Linked DNA regions of Homo sapiens. The protein of the gene in region 1 binds, or shares a complex with, the protein of each later gene. Each region holds a gene or a part of one and is shown in the gene's direction. Other genes may lie near its edges.

Region 1 (3,500 bases):
TCTTGCTCTGTTGCCCAAGCTGGAGTACAGTGGCGTGATCTCGGCCTATGACAACCTCCGTCTCCCGGCTTCAAGCGATTCTCCTGCTCAGCCTCCGGAGTAGCTAGGACTACAGCTGCGCAGCACCATGCCCGGCTAATTTTTGTATTTTTAGTAGAGACAGGGAGTCCTGACCTCGTGATCCACCCACCTCGGCCTCCCAAAATGTTGGGATTACAGGCATGAGCCACCGCGCCCGGCCTGTTTTTGTTTTTCGTGGATATACAGTAGTCCCCCCTTATCCTTGCGGGATACATTCCAAGATCTCCAGTGGATACCTGAAACCCTGTATAGTAGTGAATATAATTGTCATCAGTCAGAACACGTTTCTGTCCGTGTCTTCCACACACAAATTTAATGCCTTTTCCATCTTAACTAATCACTTGTCATGCACTGTGGCTGTGATGTTTGCAGTTTGAGGTACAACAGCAAAACTATCACGAATTTTTTTCCTTCACAATTTCATGTATAGATTTGATCTTTGTAACCTCCGCATACAATTTTTTTTCATTCCTTATTAAGTCAAGAACTTTCACCTTCAAGCAATTTACAGCTTCTCTTTGGCATATCCATATAGCTGTCATTGCTACTTTTGGACTTAGGGACTGTCATTAAGTAAAATAAGGGTTACTTAAAACTCAAGCATTGCCCTGCCCCATAGTCAGTCTGACAATCTGATAACTGAGATGGCTACTAAGTGACAAATGGCTGGTAGTTTATACAGGTGAATACATTAGACGGAGGGGAGATTCACTACCCGGTCAGGTGAGATTTCATCAGGCTACTCAGAATGGCGCACAGTTTAAAACATTGTTGTGGCTCACGCCTGTAATCCTGGCACTTTGGGAGATTGAGGCAGGAGGATTGCTTGAGGCCAGGCATTCAAGACCAGCCTGGGCAATGTAGTGGGACCCCCCATCCCCCCACCATCTCTAGAAAAAAAATTTAAAAAGTCAGCAAGGCATGGTGGCATGCATCTGTAGTCCTAGCTTCTTGGGAGGCTTAAGGTGTGAGGATCTCTTGAGCCCAGGAGTTTTGAGGTTACAGTGAGCTATGATGACACCACTGTACACTCCAGCCTAGGTGACATAGCAAGACTCTGTTTCTAAAACAACAAAAATTAGTGTTTATTTCTGCAGTTTTCTTTGTAATATTTTTGTACCACAGGTGTTTGAAATGGCAGAAAATGAAACGGGGTAAGGATGAACTCCTGTATAGATAGACTGGATAAAGAGAAAGCCAAGTGCATGATGTTCATAGAGGAGTCTTAAGAGTAAGCCTTATGTCATCTATCCAAATGTTGTTTTCTAGGAGTATAAGAATATAGGAACAGAGCTTAAAATGGAAAAATACTGTACAGTTAGCCTTCCGTATCTGAGGGTTCCGTGTTTGTGGAGTCAGCCACAGATTGAAAATATTTAGGGGAAAAAAATCCATGGTTGCATCTGTACTGGACATGTACAGACTTTATTTTCTTGTCATTATTCCCTAAACAATACAGTGCACCAACTATTTATGTTGCATTTACACTGCATTAGGTATTGTAAATAATCCAGAAAGAATTCAAAGTATATGGGTGGGTGTGTGTAGGTTATATGCAAATACTACATGTCCCCTTTATATCAGGGACTGGAGCATCCTCAGATTTTGGTATCTGCAGTGGAGGGAGTGGATTCTGGAACCAATTCCCAGCAGATACCAAGGGACAACCATATATATATAGTATCATGACATCTTGTATCATGTCACGTATATATATATCATATATATTATCATGTCACGTATACAAGACATCTTATATATCCTATCATGTAAGATGTCTTGTATACGTAAGTAATAGAAATGAAAATCAGCAGATAGTTAAGGCATAATGAGAAAATGGAAAACATTGTTCTTGTTAGAAATGTTTAAGAATGGCTTCTTGATAAAGAACTGTGTTAAGCATATTCTTTCTTCTTTTTAGACACAGAGTCTCACTCTGTTTCCTAGACAGGAGTGCAGTGGTGCAATCCTGGCTCACTGTAGCCTCCATCTCCTGGGTTCAAGCTATTCTCCTGCCTCAACCTCCCAAGTAGCTGGGATTACAGGCACCTGCTACCATGCCTGGCTAATGTTTGTATTTTTAGTAGAGATAGGGTTTCACCGTGTTGGCCAGGCTGGTCTCGAACTCCTGACCTCAGTCTGCCCACCTCGGCCTCCCAAAGTGCTGGTATTAGAGGCGAGAGCCACAGTGCCTGGCCAATTAAGCATAATTTTTTCTATTTTTCATTTTCTTACATGGATCTTTTTTTTTTTTTTTGAGACGGAGTCTAGCTCTGTCACCCAGGCTAGAGTGCAGTGACACGATCTCGGCTCACTGCCAGCTCCGCCTCCTGGGTTCATGCCATTCTCCTGCCTCAGCCTCCCTAGTGGCTGGGACTACAGGCACCCGCCACCATGCCCGGCTAATTTTTTGTATTTTTAGTAGAGATGGGGTTTCACCATGTTAGGCAGGATGGTCTCGATCTGCTGACTTCATAATCTACCCTTCTCGGCCTCCCAAAGTGCTGGGATTACAGGGGTAAGCCACCGTGCCCAGCCACCTGGGTCTTAAAGAATAAATTTTCTTGAGATGGAGTCTTGCTGTGTTGCCCAGGCTGAAGTTATCCTCCTGCTTCGGCCTCCTGAGTAGCTGGGATTGCAGATGTGAGCCACTATGCCTGCCTCTAAGAAACTTTCTTATAAAGGAGGAAGAAGAAAAGTAGCAGTGCAGTGCTCCAAAGAATTTTTTTACAACACTTAAGGAAGAACTACCTTTAACTTGTAGCACTAGAGACTCTGTTTCAAAGAATGCACAAGAATACTTACCCTTATTACTTGTAATATACTCTCATATTTTCTGTTGCTTTTTTTTCTTTTCTTTTTTTTTTTTTTTTTAGTACTGGTTGCAGCCTACTATATTGATTTTTATGACCCACTGTTGGCTTTTGAGCCATAATTTGAAGAATACTGGCGTAGAAGAGTTGACAAGATGGCAGTTATTCTGTATTAGGCCAACATTTTCTGTATGCCAGGAACTTATCCTCTGTACATTGTTCCTTCTTTCCTTCCTGGAGTTTATAGATAAGGGAAGAAGACTGGCATTCACGGAGTCTGGTGTGATCAGCATTGTATTTGGGAAGTACGTATATAGTGGGAGGAACAGGAGAACCTAACCCAGTAGTTATCCTGGTGGCTGTCTTTGAGGAATTGTGTCTGATTTTGGGATCTCACAGATAGAGATAGGATTAGTAAAAATGAGCCCAGGCTAGAAAGGAGACTGTGTGAGGCCAGGTATATCCTGTTCTGGGAACCTGTGAGTGCTGTCTGACTGGTAGAATAGCCAAAAACTTGACTGTAGAGGTGAGCAAGGGGGCCAATCATGGAGGGCTTATAATACAGGAATTTAGACTTTCCATTTTACCCATTTAATGGATGGGGCA
Region 2 (3,500 bases), on another chromosome or scaffold:
GTGTTTTTGTGGTGGGAGAGAGGATCAGGGGTATGTGTCTTAGGACTGGCACAGAGAGGTTTCAAGGGGGAAGGCCCAAGTTCATCTGTCTTTTTTAGGCAACTGGAGCCTGTTCTAGGATTTTGCCATGCTTGAGCTTATGAGGGGAAGGGGATGTGGAGGATGGAGGATGGGAGGGTAAGGTGGGAAGGACCTTAGTGGGAAAAGATAATCTGTAGTTATCTGTTGCAGAGAAATGCCTTCCTGAAAACTAGGCTGGAATGTATTATAAACTGCCTCTGCTTGGGCCGGGTGCGGTGGCTCATGCCTGTAATCCCAGCACTTTAGGAGGTCGAGGCGGGTGGATTACCTGAGGTCAGGTTTTTGAGACCAGCCTGGCCAACATGGCGTAAACCCCGTATGTCCTAAAAATACAAAAATTAGCTGGATGTGGTGGTTCGTGCCTGTAATCCCAGCTACTTGCGGGGCTGAGGCAGGAGAATCACTTGAACCCAGGAGGCGGAGGTTGCAGTGAGCTAAGATCGTGCTGCTGCACTCCAGAATGGGCCACAGAGCAAGACTCCATCTAAAAAAAAAAAAAAAAAAAAAAAAAAGCAGCACTTAGAGGCAGTGATGGCTTGGGCTTGTCTCTTCTTGGCAGATAGGGGTCTGTGTGTCTTGTTGAAAAAGAAGCAACTTCTTTAATGCAGTCATTCTCAACGAGAAGTAAGATCAAAATCACTTGGGGGACATTTGCAAACTATGCAAGTTCCCCATCCATATCCCCTCTTTCACCTGTTGAGAATCAGTGCTTTGAGTCTTCGGGTCTAAAGAAGAACTCAGATGGGGTGTGGTGGCTCACACCAGTTATCTCTGCACTTTGGAAGGCTGAGGCAGGAGGATCACTTGAGGCCAGGAGTCTGAGCCTAGCCTAGGCAACATAGCGAGACGTCATCTCTACAATTTTTCTTTTTTTTTTTTTGAGACAGAGTTTTCCTTTGTCACCGAGGCTGGAGCACAGAGGCGCAATCTCAGCTCACTGCAGCCTCAACTTCTTGGGCTCAAGCGATCCTCCCACCCCAGCCCCCCAAGTAGTTGGGACTACAGGTGCATGCCACCGCACCTGGCTTATTTTCGTATTTTTAATGGAGACAGGGTTTTGCCATGTTGCCCAGGCTGGTCTCAAACTCCTGGAGTCAAGCAATCCTTCCACCTTGGCCTCCCAAAGTGCTGGGATTACAGATATGAACCACCGTGCCCGGCCTCTACAAAAAAATTTAAAAATAAAGGAGGAATTCACCTGTAATCCCAGCACTTTGGGAGGCCGAAGCAGGCGGATCACAAGGTCAGGAGATCGAGACCAACCTGGCTAACACGGTGAAACCCCGTCTCTATTAAAAATACAAAAAGTTAGCCGGGCGTGGTGGTGGGCGTCTGTAGTCCCAGCTACACAGGAGGCTGAGGCAGGAGAATGGCATGAACCTAGGAGGCGGAGATTGCAGTGAGCCGAGATTGTGCCACTGCACTCCAGCCTGGGCGACAGAGCGAGACTCCATCTCAAAAAATAAAAATAAAAATAAAAATAAAAATAAAAATAAAAAAATGGGGAATTCAGATGGCTAACTCTGGTCTTCTTTTCTCCTACTCCATTTCTTCTTTTTCTTTGTCTCAACAGCATCTGCATTGCCGGGACCGGATATGAGCATGAAACCTAGTGCCGCCCCGTCTCCATCCCCTGCACTTCCCTTTCTCCCACCAACTTCTGACCCACCAGACCACCCACCCAGGGAGCCACCTCCACAGCCCATCATGCCTTCAGTATTCTCTCCAGACAACCCTCTGATGCTCTCTGCTTTCCCCAGCTCACTGTTGGTGACAGGGGATGGGGGCCCTTGCCTCAGTGGGGCTGGGGCTGGCAAGGTCATTGTCAAAGTCAAGACAGAAGGGGGGTCAGCTGAGCCCTCTCAAACTCAGAACTTTATCCTTACTCAGACTGCCCTCAATTCGACTGCCCCGGGCACTCCCTGTGGAGGCCTTGAGGGTCCTGCACCTCCATTTGTGACAGCATCTAATGTGAAGACCATTCTGCCCTCTAAGGCTGTTGGTGTCAGCCAGGAGGGTCCTCCAGGCCTTCCGCCTCAGCCTCCACCACCAGTTGCTCAACTGGTCCCCATTGTGCCCCTGGAAAAAGCTTGGCCAGGGCCACATGGGACAACCGGGGAAGGAGGTCCTGTGGCCACTCTATCCAAGCCTTCCCTAGGTGACCGCTCCAAAATTTCCAAGGACGTTTATGAGAACTTCCGTCAGTGGCAGCGTTACAAAGCCTTGGCCCGGAGGCACCTATCCCAGAGTCCTGACACAGAAGCTCTTTCCTGTTTTCTTATGTAAGTGGGGAGACCGGAGATTAATTATTCTAGGGCTTTTAAATAAGGAGGACTTTGGGGTGAACATAGTAGTTTAGGCTGTTTAGGACTACTTGAGGGAAGGTCATGAGGGCAAGGGAGATGCTCTGAGAATGAAAAACATATTAATAATAATAATCAGCCTCTTAACCCACTTCCTAGTTTATAACAACCTTTCAGGTGTCTTATCTTAAGTGATCCTCACCACACTGTGAGTTCAGGCAAGCCTTCCTCTGGTAATCTTCATTTACAGATAAGAAGACTGAAACCAAGGACCAGTGATTGGAACTTAGGTCTCTCACTCTAAGTGCCAGGGTCCTCCCCCCGTTCTATTTTACTACCTTTTGACATTGAGTCAGAACTATCCAAACTAGCCAGGATGAGTGCTGGACCCTAACTCAGGGCCCTGGGTGGCAGGGGGAACAGTGTGGGGCCAGGCAAAGGACTTTGTGTGTGCTGCTCCCTCTGCTCCCTCCACTCATTTTATTCAGGAGAATTCACTTTGAAATAGGGTGGTGGGTAGAGCTTGCTTAGTGGTCAAGGGCATGGCTCTACCACTCACTAGATTTGTGATCCTGGGCAGGACATTTAACATCTTTGCCCTCAGTTTTCTCAGTTAAAAAGGGGGATAACTATACCTAATTCACAGAGTTGCTGAGGAGATTAAATGGGTTAATATATGTGAAGTCCTTGGCGCAGAGAATGTTTCATTAAATGTCAACTGTTTTATTATTATCCTAAAAAGGCCATCTAGAAGAGGAAAAGAACTCGCAAAAGGTCAAAACGTCCTTGCTTAAGAGCGAGTGTGTGTTTAGTCAAGGAGCCCAGGGTCCTAGGCTGTTTTGTTTACAAAACAGTCATTCCTCAGCTGGGGAACAGTCTTCCCTTCCCACCCAGACCCACTGTCCCTCTCAACTGCCCTGTGCCCTCAGCATTTTGTGTAAGCCGCTATATAACACATACCACATTTTATTGCTTTAAACAAATGTACATGGTGCTCTTCCAGTGGCTGAACTCCTAAAGGAATCCCTCTACCCCGAACTTGGAGCAAATGAATCAAGATGTTCCCCCAAAGTCCTAGATGTACAGCGTCTTCAGGCTCCCTGCTTTCTCAAGGCA

What was found. Proteins that work in one complex are often made in the same cells at the same time.
Region 2: the proteins of EP300 (region 1) and NUTM1 are in contact, whole or in part, in an NMR structure (PDB 7XFG), measured with the Homo sapiens proteins. Residues at the interface, in NP_001420.2 of Homo sapiens: Arg1731, Ser1734, Ile1735, Arg1737, Ser1757, Lys1760, Met1761, Val1764, Ile1781, Lys1783, Gln1784, Leu1785, Ile1786, Ala1787, Leu1788, Tyr1791, Lys1794; in NP_786883.2 of Homo sapiens: Tyr405, Pro406, Asp407, Pro408, Gly409, Leu410, Leu411, Tyr413, Ile414, Glu416.

Annotation. Positions count from the first base shown.
Region 1 is NC_000022.11:41,099,092-41,102,591, forward strand, and holds part of EP300 (histone acetyltransferase p300), read left to right. Parts: intron 1-3,500. UniProt on the Homo sapiens protein: Functions as a histone acetyltransferase and regulates transcription via chromatin remodeling. Acetylates all four core histones in nucleosomes. Histone acetylation gives an epigenetic tag for transcriptional activation.
Region 2 is NC_000015.10:34,346,315-34,349,814, forward strand, and holds part of NUTM1 (NUT family member 1), read left to right. Parts: intron 1-1,654; coding exon 1,655-2,363; intron 2,364-3,500. UniProt on the Homo sapiens protein: Plays a role in the regulation of proliferation. Regulates TERT expression by modulating SP1 binding to TERT promoter binding sites.